Homo sapiens: one gene and its partners. The protein of the gene in region 2 interacts with the protein of the main gene of each other region in a pairwise test. Each region holds a gene or a part of one and is shown on either strand. Other genes may lie near its edges. The genes, in order: UNC13B, PDCL2 and STEEP1.

The links.
Region 1: the proteins of PDCL2 (region 2) and UNC13B interact in a two-hybrid assay, tested with the Homo sapiens proteins (one large-scale study listed by BioGRID).
Region 3: the proteins of PDCL2 (region 2) and STEEP1 interact in a two-hybrid assay, tested with the Homo sapiens proteins (one large-scale study listed by BioGRID).

The regions. Positions count from the first base shown.
Region 1 is NC_000009.12:35,168,439-35,172,092, reverse strand, and holds part of UNC13B (protein unc-13 homolog B), read right to left. Parts: intron 1-3,654. UniProt on the Homo sapiens protein: Plays a role in vesicle maturation during exocytosis as a target of the diacylglycerol second messenger pathway.
Region 2 is NC_000004.12:55,585,650-55,589,303, reverse strand, and holds part of PDCL2 (phosducin-like protein 2), read left to right. Parts: intron 1-3,654. UniProt on the Homo sapiens protein: Essential for male fertility, spermiogenesis and acrosome formation.
Region 3 is NC_000023.11:119,558,775-119,562,428, forward strand, and holds part of STEEP1 (STING ER exit protein), read right to left. Parts: intron 1,612-3,654; coding exon 1,494-1,611; intron 1-1,493.

The DNA of each region.
Region 1 (3,654 bases), on a different chromosome or scaffold from region 2:
GACCTGAGACCTGCCTGGACAGCATAGTGAGACCCCATCTCTACAAAAAAAAATTAATAAATAAAATTTTAAATGAAGGAAATAGGGCTTATTTTTGAAGAGCCATAGAAAAATAAATTTCACAGCTTTTCTGTGGCAGTTCAAATTTCATCAAGAAATTTTAATTTATGTTTAATCTAAATCACTCCTGCTATAATTCAAGTGCCTCCAATTTCTCCCCACATAATCTAATCTACACTGTCATGAGATTAAGAAATACATTAAATAAATAAACAACAGTATATGCATCTAACAAGATACTACATAGCAACGAAAATCAATGAACTAACTGCCACACACATCAAGTGGAAGAATCTGACAAACATGTTAATCAAAATAAACTAGCCTGGGGTAGGGAACAGTGGCTCATGCATGTCACCTCAGAACTTTGGGAGTCCCAGAGAGAAGGACTGCTTGAAGCCAGGAGTTCGACACCAGCCTGGGCAACATAGGGAGACCCATCTCTACAAAAAAATTTTCAAAAATTAGCCAGGTGTGGTGGCACATGCTTGTAGTCCCAACTACTTAGGAGACGGAGACGGGAGGATCTCTTGAGCCCAGGAGTTTGAGGCTACAGTGAGCTATGATCACATCACTGCACTCCAGTCTGGGCAACAGAGTGAGACTTCTTTCTTTAAAAAACTATACTTGAGACCAGGCATGGTGGCTCACACCTGTAATCCCAACACTTTGGGAGGCCAAGGCGGGTGGGTCACCTGAGGTCAGGAGTTTGAGACCAGCCTGGCCAACATGGTGAAACCCTGTCTCTACTGAAAATACAAAAATTAGCTGGGCGTGGTGGCGGGCACCTGTAGTCCCACCTACTTGGGAGGCTGAGGCAGGAGAATCTCTTGAACCTGGGAGATGGAGGTTACAGTGGGCCAAGATTGAGCCACTGCATTCCAGCCGGGGTAAAAGAATGAGACTCCATCTCAAAAAAAAAGGAGCCAGGCACAGTGGTTCATGCCTGTAATCCCAGCACTTTGGGAGGCTGAGGCGGGCAGACCACTTGACTCCACAGGTTGAAGATTAGCCTGGGTAAAGTGACAAAACCCTGTCTCTACAAAAAATACAAAAATTAGCCATGTATGGTTGCACAAGCATACAGTCCCAGCTACTCAGGAGGCTGAGGTGGAAGAATCACCTGAGCTTGGCAAGATTGAGGCTGCAGTGAGCCCTGATTAGCACCATGGCACTCTAGCCTAAGCAACAGAATAAGAACCTGTCTCAAAAAAAAAGAGAAGGTATATATAAAATACCCCCAAACTCAAAGACTCTTGCTTTAAATGCACAGTGGCTCATGACTATAATCCCAGCATTTTAGGAGGCTGAGGCAGAAGGATTGCTTGAGCCCAAGAGTTCAAGACCAGCCTGGGCAACATAGCAAGACCCCATCTCTAAAAAAAATTTTTTTTTAATTAGCCAAGCATGGTAGTTCACACCTGTAGTCCCAGGTACTCAGAAGGCTGAAATGAGCATATCACTTGATCCCAGGAGGTCGAGGCTGCAGAGAGCCATGTTCGCACCATTGCACTCCAGCCTGGGCAACAGAGCAAGATCCAGTCTCAAAAAACTAATCATAAAATAAGGCTGGGCGTGGTGGCTCACATCTGTAATCCCAACACTTTGGGAGGCCGCAGTGGGCAGATCACTTGAGGTCAGGAGTTAGAGACCAGCCTGGCCAACATGGTGAAACCCCATCTCTACTAAAAATACAAAAATTAGCTAGGCGTGGTGGTGGACACCTGTAGTCCCAGCTACTCAGGAGACTGAGTCAGGAGAATCGCTTGAACCTGGGAGGCAGAGGTTGCAGTAAGCTGAGATTGCACCACTGCACTCCAACCTGGGCAACAGAACGAGACTCCATCTCAAAAACAAAACAAAAAAAAAACAGTAATAATAACAATGTGAAAATAAATGTTAAAACAAGACAGTGCAGTTATTTCCCTACTCAAGGAAGAACTTAATTTATTCTGCTTATTCCAAATCAGACCTAATAATCCTAATGGATTATTTGAGTTTATATAAGAACACTGTATAACAGACATTTTAAAACCTATCTAGATTCCGTGGCCTCTTATCTACAATACAGATTTGTGTCATAAACATGCACAGAGAAAGTATCCAACAAATATTTACTAATGATACACAGCCCAAACTTTAAACAAACTCAAAGTCTGAAATACACAGCACAGGTAAATAGGATAAAAATTAAGCTTATTGGCCTAAAGAGCCCAACTTTCAGAAACCCCATTTTTAGAAACTAAATTACAGAATACGCTACTTATAAGGAACAGAACAGTTTATAACAATAGCATAGCAGAGCAAATTGGTCCTTTCCCCCATCACTGCCTGGCTCACACAAAGCACAATCAACTTCCTGAGGCCCTAAGTGAAAGGAACACAGCCACAGCTCTGCTCTAAGGGCAGGGACTACTAGAACCACGATCGATGGAAGCCCAGCAAAAAGGAGTTAGCTGAGGCAGATGACAATAACATTCAGCAGGGGGTGGCAGGATGGGGGAAGGAGATGAGAAGTATCTGACCAACCTATACCTATGTCTGAAAACTCTAATATCATTACCATTCCTACTTTCCACAATGGCTGTAAACCGAAATATATTTTTGGACTTTCCCTAGAGTAGAATCAATGCACAATCAACGTGTCTAGTTAGATGGATGATTAATGATAAGCCATGAACTTTTTGAGATGGCTCTGTTACCCAGGCTAGAATGCAGTGGCATGAACATGGCTCACTACACCCTCAATCTCTTGGACTCAAGCCATCCTCCTGCCTCGCCTCCCAAGTAGCTGAGACTACCGGCATGCGTCAACACGCACAGCTAATTTTTAAATATTTTTTTAGTAGGAATGGGGTCTTGCTATGTTGCCCAGGCTGGTCTCAAACTCCTGGATGCAAGTGATTCTCTTGCCTCAGCCTCCCAAAGTACTGGGATTACAGGCATGAGCCACCTCACCTGTCCAGTAACGAGTTTTTTAAAGGGCAAATCATAATATAAATCAACTTGGTCCTGTTACCATTCACCAGTGACATTGTTTTGTTCTGTTTTAAAAATGCAGTCGGGCACAGTGGCTCACACCTGTTAATCCCAACACTTTAGGAGACTGAGACAGGCAGATTGCTTGAGCCCAGGAGTTCAAGACCACCCTGGGAAACATAGCAAAACCCTGTCTCTACAAGAAAGCCTGTAGTTCCAGCTACTCAGGAGTCTAAGGTGAGAGCATCACCTGAGCCCAGGGAGGTCAAGACTGCAGTGAGCCGTGATCATGCCACTGCACCCCAGCCTGGGCAACAGAGTGAGACCCTGTATCAAAAAAAAAAAAAAAAGCAAGTAATACATGTTCATATGGAAAATAAAATACAAATAAGAAAGAAAAGTACATGGAAATCACAGGTCAAACTTACTTACAAGAGCAGAGTCTTTGGTCTTTTCAACAGGCATAGAAAAATATTACCTGCTGCTGAAGGATCTGCCTCTAATTGAGGATGTTGATCTGAGACACCGAGGCATTTGGTCCAACTGAGTATAATTATATGCCAAAGAAAACAGCAATGAGAAAATTACACATAAAGTCCAGGTGGAAAGCTAATT
Region 2 (3,654 bases):
TCGAGGACAGAAAGCAGAAATCAGTCAAAGGTAACCAAGCACACAAGGAAATAAGCCACCATGAGACCATGAACCAACAGAAACAGATTTACAGAGATTTTTAGATAACAGAATGATCAGAAATAGGTTATAAAACATCCGTACTGGCTGGGCGCGGTGGCTCATGCCTGTAATACCAGCACTTTGGGAGGCCGAGGTGGGCGGATCACGAGGTCAGGAGATCGAGACCATCCTGGCTAACACGGTGAAACCCCGTCTCTACTAAAAAAATACAAAAAATTAGCCAGGTTTGGTGGCAGGCGCCTGTGGTCCCAGCTACTTGGGAGGCTGAGGCAAGAGAATGGCATGAACCCAGGAGGCAGAGCTTGCAGTGAGCCCAGATCACGCCACTGTACTCCAGCCTGGGCAACAGAGCGAGACTCTCTAAAAAAAAAAAAAGTACTTATAAATACTGAAAACTATAAAACAGACAAATAGAGTAGAATAGAAAGCCTTGAAATAAACCCACACATATTTTCAAAAAATTTTTAACAAGAGTGCCAAGACCATTAAATGGGCAACAGTTAATTTTTTTTCAATAAAGGGTGCTGGGTAAACTGGGTATCCACATGCAAAAGAATGAAGTTGGAACCTTATCTTAGACTTTGTGAATCTGAAATATCTGAAACAGGTTTCAGTTGACTTAGAAAGTTTATTTTGCCAAGGTTAAGGATGTACCCATGACACAGCCTTAAGAGGTCCTGATGACATGCGTCCAGTGTGGTTGGGGTACAGCTTGCATTTCGGGAGACATCATTCAATATGTGTAAGATGTACATTGATTTGGTCTAGTAAGGCAGGACAACTTCAAGAGGGGGCTTTAAGGTCAGAAGTAGATAAGAGAGTCCTTGATCCTTTTGAGTCCTTGATTAGCCTTCCACTGAATACACAATTTAGTCTGGCTCAGTGAGTCTGCACTTTTACATAAACAGTAGAGCAGAGGAAGCAATCAGATATGCATTTGTCTCAGGTGAGTCTGAGAGGGATGACTTTCAGTTCTGTCTGTCCTTTGTCCACAAGGAATTTCCTTTTGGGCAAATTGTGAGGGAGGTGTGTAGCTTGTGTCTTTGTAGCTATTTTATTTAGGAGTAAAATGGGAGGCAGGTTTGCCTGACATAGTTCCCAACTTGACTTTTCCCTTGGCTTAGTGATTTGGGGGTCCTGAGATTTATTTTTCTTTCACAACTGTATACAAAAATTAACTCAAACTGCATCAAAGTCCTATAGCTAAAGGTAGAAATCTCTTAAAAGGAAACATAAGATAGATTCATGACATTGAGTTTGACAATAATTTCTTGGTTATGACACCAAAAGCACAGGTAACAAAAGAAAAAAATAAATTGTACTTTACCAAATTTAAAACATTTTTTTGCGTCAGAGGATATTATCAAGAGAATGAAAAGACAAGTGTTGAGACACAGTGGCTGAAACCTGTAATCCCAGCACTTTGGGAGGCTGAGGCAGGTGGATCATTTGAGGTCAGGAGTTTGAGACCAACCTGGCCAACATGGTGAAACCCAATCTCTACTAAAAATACAAAAATTAGCTGGGTGTGGTGGTGGGCATCTGTAATCTTAGCTACTCAGGAGGCTGAAGCAGGAGAATCGTTTAAACCTAGGAAGAATTCTCAGTGAGCCGAGATTGCTCCACTGCACTCCATCCTGAGCAATAGACTGAGACTTCATCTCAAAAAAAAAAAATTTAAAAAAAACAGAAAAAGAAAAAAGACAACCCACAGAATAGAAAATATTGGCTGATCATATATTTGATAAGAGGATAATATCCAGAAGATATAAAGACTTCCTAAAACTCAACAACAAAAAGACAAACAACCCAATATAAAAATGGGCAAAAGATTTTGCTATAGTTTGAGTGTGTCTGCTCCAAAATTCAGTTGTTTCCAATGTGATAGTATTAGGAGGTGGGGCCTTTAAGAGGTGATTAGGCCATGAAGTCTCCTTCCTTATAAATGGGATTAGATACCCTTATAAAAGGGCTTGCTACAGAGAGTATGTCCCTTTTTTTTTTTTTTTTTTTTTTTTTTTTTTACTATTCTGTCTTTTGCCACGTGAGGACACAGTGTTCCTCTCCTCTGGAAGACACAGTGTTCAAGGTACCATCTTGAAAGAAGAGATCAGACCCTCACTGGACAATGAACTTGACAGTGCCATAATCTTAGATTTCCCAGCCTCCAGAACAGTGAAAAATAAATTTCTGTTCTTTATAATTTACCCAGTCTAAGATATTTTGTTATAGAGTACAAACTGGACTAAGACAAACTTGAATAGACGTTTCTTAAAAGAAGATCTCCAAATAGCCAATAAACACATGAAAAGATGCTTAACATCACTAATAATGAAGGGGATGCAGCTCAAAACCACAGTCTACTTCACACCCACTAGAATGTTTATGATAGAAAAGATGGGCAATAACAAAACTGTTGATAAGGATATAGACAAATTAGAATCCTTTTGCATTGCTGGTGGGAATGTAAAATTGCACAACTGCTGTGGAAAACTGGTAATTTCCTTCCAAATTAAACAGATATCATATGATTCAGTAATTCTCCTTCCAGGTATGTACCCAAAAGAATTGAAAGTAAGGACTTAAACAGATATTTGTATACCCATTTTTATAACAGCTTTATTCCTAATAATGAAAAGTGAAAACTACCCAAATGTCCATTGATGGATGAATAAACAAAATGTGGTATATAGGTACAATGGAATATTATTCAACCTTAAAAAAGAATGGAATTCTGCTACATGCTACAACATAGTCGAACCTTGAAAACATGCTAAGCGAAATAAGCCAGTCACAAAAGGACAACTATTGTATGGTTCCACCTGCATGAAGTACACAGAATAGTCAAATACATGGTAGAAAGTAGAACATGGAACAATGGTTTCCTGGAGTTTGGAAGAGGAGAGAATGAGGGGCTATTATTTAATGAGTACAGTTTTTCTATTACAGAAATGAATAACAGAGGAAATCTTAGAAAATTAACAAACATGTGGAAACTAAACAACATGCTACTGAACAACCAATGGGTCAAAGAAGAAATTAGAAGAGAAAGTTTAAAATATATTGAGAAAAACAAAAATGGAACTACAACAAAACCTATGGAAGGCAGCAGAAGCAGATTTAAGAGGGAAATGCATAGCAATAAATGCCTAAAACAAAAAAGAACAAACTAAGCTTATAGTTATCAGAAGGAAATAAATAACAAAGAGCAGAAATAAATGAAATAAAGACTAGAAAAACAATAGAAAAAATCAAGAAAATCTTTGGTTTTTTGAAAATATAAAATCAACAAAACCTTAGCTATACTAAGAATAAAGAAGACTCAGATAAAATCAGAAACAAAAGAGGAGGCCTTACAGCTGATACCACAGAAATACAAAGCATTGTAAGACATTAATATGAACAGTTACATGCCAATGGATTGGATAACCTAGAAGAAATGGATAAATCCATAGACACATATAGCCTACCAACAGTGGATCAAGAAGAAATACAAAATCTAAACAGACCAATAACAAATAAGGAGATTGAATAAAAAATTAAAAGGCTCCCATCAACGAAAAGTCCGGGACCTGATGCCTTCACCAGTAA
Region 3 (3,654 bases), on a different chromosome or scaffold from region 2:
TTCCAATTCTTTTGTCTGCCTTTTAAATATTCAGTCCTATCTGCTTGCTCCACACTCTGTAATTTTATCCCTTCCCAGGTTTCAATTTCCCATATATACCAAACTCCCAAATCTAAAACAGAGCTAACCACATCACACCCCTGCTTAAAAAACAGAGATAGGCCGGGCGCAGTGGCTCACCCCTCTAATCCCAGCACTTTGGGAGGCAGAGGCAGGTGGATCGCCTGAGGCCAGAAGTTCGAGACCAGCCTGGCCAACATAGTGAAATCCCATCTCTACTAAAAATACAAAAAATTAGCCAGGCGTGGTGGCAGGTGCCTGAAATCCCAGCTACTCAGGACGCTGAGGCAGGAGAATCGCTTGAACCTGGGAGGCGGAGGTTGCAGTGAGCCAAGATCACACCATTGCACTCCAGCCTGGGCAACAAGAGCGAAACTCCGTCAAAAAAAAAAAAACGGAGATGGCTCTTCATTGCCTACAGATTAAGGCCAAACTTGTCCACTTCAGCACTTTACTCTGTCCTCACCCTAGTATGCATGATGCCGTTCCTGTAAAGTAACCTGTGCTCCAGTCACAAACGACAATTCAGGTTTCTAAAGCACACCATGTTTGATGCTTTTAATGCTTCCATATTCCTTCCACCTGGAATGCTCTTCATTCCCTTCATCTACTTGGTGAAATCCTAGTTCAGGCTAAACACAAATGCCATCATCTTTTGAAGCCTTTCCTGGCCACCATTCAGGACAAATGACCCACTCCCACCTGTTTTTCCTTTCGTTCAGAAGACCAGTATTTTTTCCTATCACAATAGGAGTCATTCCCTCAAAGTCATGAGCTCTTTAATGGTAAAAATCATACCTTATTCATCTTCACAGATCCAGTACCTAGCTCAGTGCCTGGCACACGGTATGCTCCACAAGATTACAGGTTGAATGAACTCATTCAAACCTGTAAATTGTAAACAAACTACGGCTATCAAATGGCAATGGAGGGGCCGGGCACAGTGGCTTATGCCTGTAATCCCAGCACTTTGGGAGGCCAAGGAGGGAGAATCACTTGAGGCCAGGAGTTCAAGACCAGCCTGGCCGACATGGTGAAACTGCGTCTCTACTAAAAATACAAAAATTAGCTGGGCGTGGTGGCGCACGCCTGTCATCCCAGCTACTGGGGAGGCTGAGGCAAGAGAGTTGCTTGAATCTGGGAGGTGGAGGTTGCGGTAAGCCGAGGTCACACCACTGCACTCCAGCCTGAGCAACAGAGTGAGTGAGACTCCATCTCAATTAAAAAAAAAAAGCAATGGAATCACATGTGAGCACCATTTCAACAAAGCACAATAAAGATATTACTACATTAACAGAAGTTAGAAAACCACCACAAATGTCAAAGTATTGGGACCAACTGACCTGTTCAACAATAGATGTGATATTTATATTATTCAGAAACAGACTCCAACACAATAGGGAAATCCTAAACAGGGAGCATCAACCTCTTACCTCCGCAGATACATAGTCTCCTCATCTTCTGTGTTACAAAACTTATGGGCATGTTTGGCAGCATCAATCACACGGGACCGGTCCCGGGGCCTCATGGGCAATTTCTCTAACTGGCAGTCTGAAGGAATGGAGAGATTTGGTCACTAGAGTCATGGCAAAATATAGCAAATGAGTCACTGCAAAATATCCTGAGAAGTTTTGAGTGGGATCCCTAGCACTAGAATTTTCTACTACAATTACTATGCTTATTGAAACCTATTATTGAATGTTCCAACTAAAAATGACTTGCTATCAGGAGACCTTGGTATTTGGACCCAGCTCTCTTACTACCCTGGTGATCTTTGGCAAATCACTTCCTCCTTTGGAGACTTTTGCCTCATTTGAAAGATGAGTTAGATGATATTATCTCAAAAGTCCTTCCCAATACTGCAATTCAGGTTTCTGTAAGTATTTCTGTGATCATAGTACACTTGGTTTGTGTTATAATGCATTAGAATCAGGAGACACAATCAAGCATACTGGAATGCCTACAAGGAAGCACTGGGAAAAGTGGGTATGTGCTAAGAAAAGGAGAGAGGCTGGGCGTGGTGGCATGCACCTATAGTCCCAGCTACTCAGAAGAATGAGGCAGGGCGATTGCTTGAGACCAGGAGTGCAATGCTGTAGTGTTCCATGATTGTGCCTGTGAATAGCCACTGTACTCCTGCCTGGGCAACACAGCAAGACCCTGTCTCTGTTTTACAAAAAAAAAAAAAAAAGAGGCCAGGCGAGGTGGCTCATGCCTGTAATCCCAGCACTTTGGGAGGTCAAGACGAGCAGATCACCTGAGGTCAGTAGTTCAAGACCAGCCTGGCCCAGCTACTTGGGAGGCTGAGGCGAGAGAATTGCTTGAACCCAGGAGGTGGAGGTTGCAGTGAGCCAATATTGTGCCACTGCACTTCAGCCTGGGCAACAGAGCGAGACTCCGTCAAAAAACAAAAAAAAAGGAAGAGAGAGGGTGATTATATAGTATGCAAATGATCCATCCTAGTTGGAGGAATTTTAATCTGAAAACAATGAAAACACAGTAAACAAATTAGGTACAGTTGTAAAGCAGATTGAAAATTGATATAATGGGCCAGGTGCGGTGGCTCACGCTTGTAATCCAGCACTTTGGGAGGCTGAGGTGGCAGGTGGATCACCTGAGGTCAGAAGTTCGAGACCAGCCTGGCCAACATATAGCGAAACCGTCTCTACTAAAACATACAAACATTAGCAGGGCGTGGTGGCACACACCTGTAGTCCCAGCTAGTTGGGAAGCTGAGGCAGGAGAATCGCTTGAACCCAGGAGGCAGAGGGTTGCAGTGAGCTGGGATCACACCACTGCACTCCTGCCTGAGCAACAGAGGAAAACTCCGTCTCTCAAAAGAAAAAAAAAAGAAAAAAAAAGAAAATTTATATAATGCAAATTAAGCACCTAAAGGATCACAGAGAAAGTCAAGTGGTCAGAGTAATTCAAGATGAATAGAGGAGGTGAAGAGAGGAGTTAGAGAACACTAGGCAGTTTACATGTCAGCTCATTTACTCTTCACAATGAATGGTTAAAGTAAAGATTTGTTGTTCCTATTTTAAAGATGAAGGAACTGAGGTTAAAAAGGGTAAGAGATATACCATGCATCTAATAAGAAGCAGAACAAGAATTCAGACCCAACTCTAAGTGATTCAAAAGCACATGCTGTTTCCACCACACCTCCTTACCAAGAATTAATTTCTTCGATAAATACGTGAGGGCCCTCTAGGTAGCAGGCACTGTTCTAACACTGTGCTAAAGATTCAGCAAACAACAAAGCAGATAAAGTCTCCGCCCTGGCCGGGCACGGTGGCTCACGCCTGTAATCCCAGCACTTTGGGAAGCCAAGACAGGTGGATCACCTGAGGTCAGGAGTTCGAGACCAGCCTGGCCAACATGGTGAAACCCCGTCTCTCCTAAAAATACAAAAATTAACCGGGTGCGGTTGCTCACGTCTGTAATCCCAGCACTTTGGGAGGCCGAGGCTGGCGGATCACCTGAGGTCGGGAGTTTGAGACCGGCCTGACCAACATGGAGAAACCCTGTCTCTACTAAAAAAATACAAAATTAGCTGAGCATGGTGGTGCATGCCTGTAATCCCAGCTACTCGGG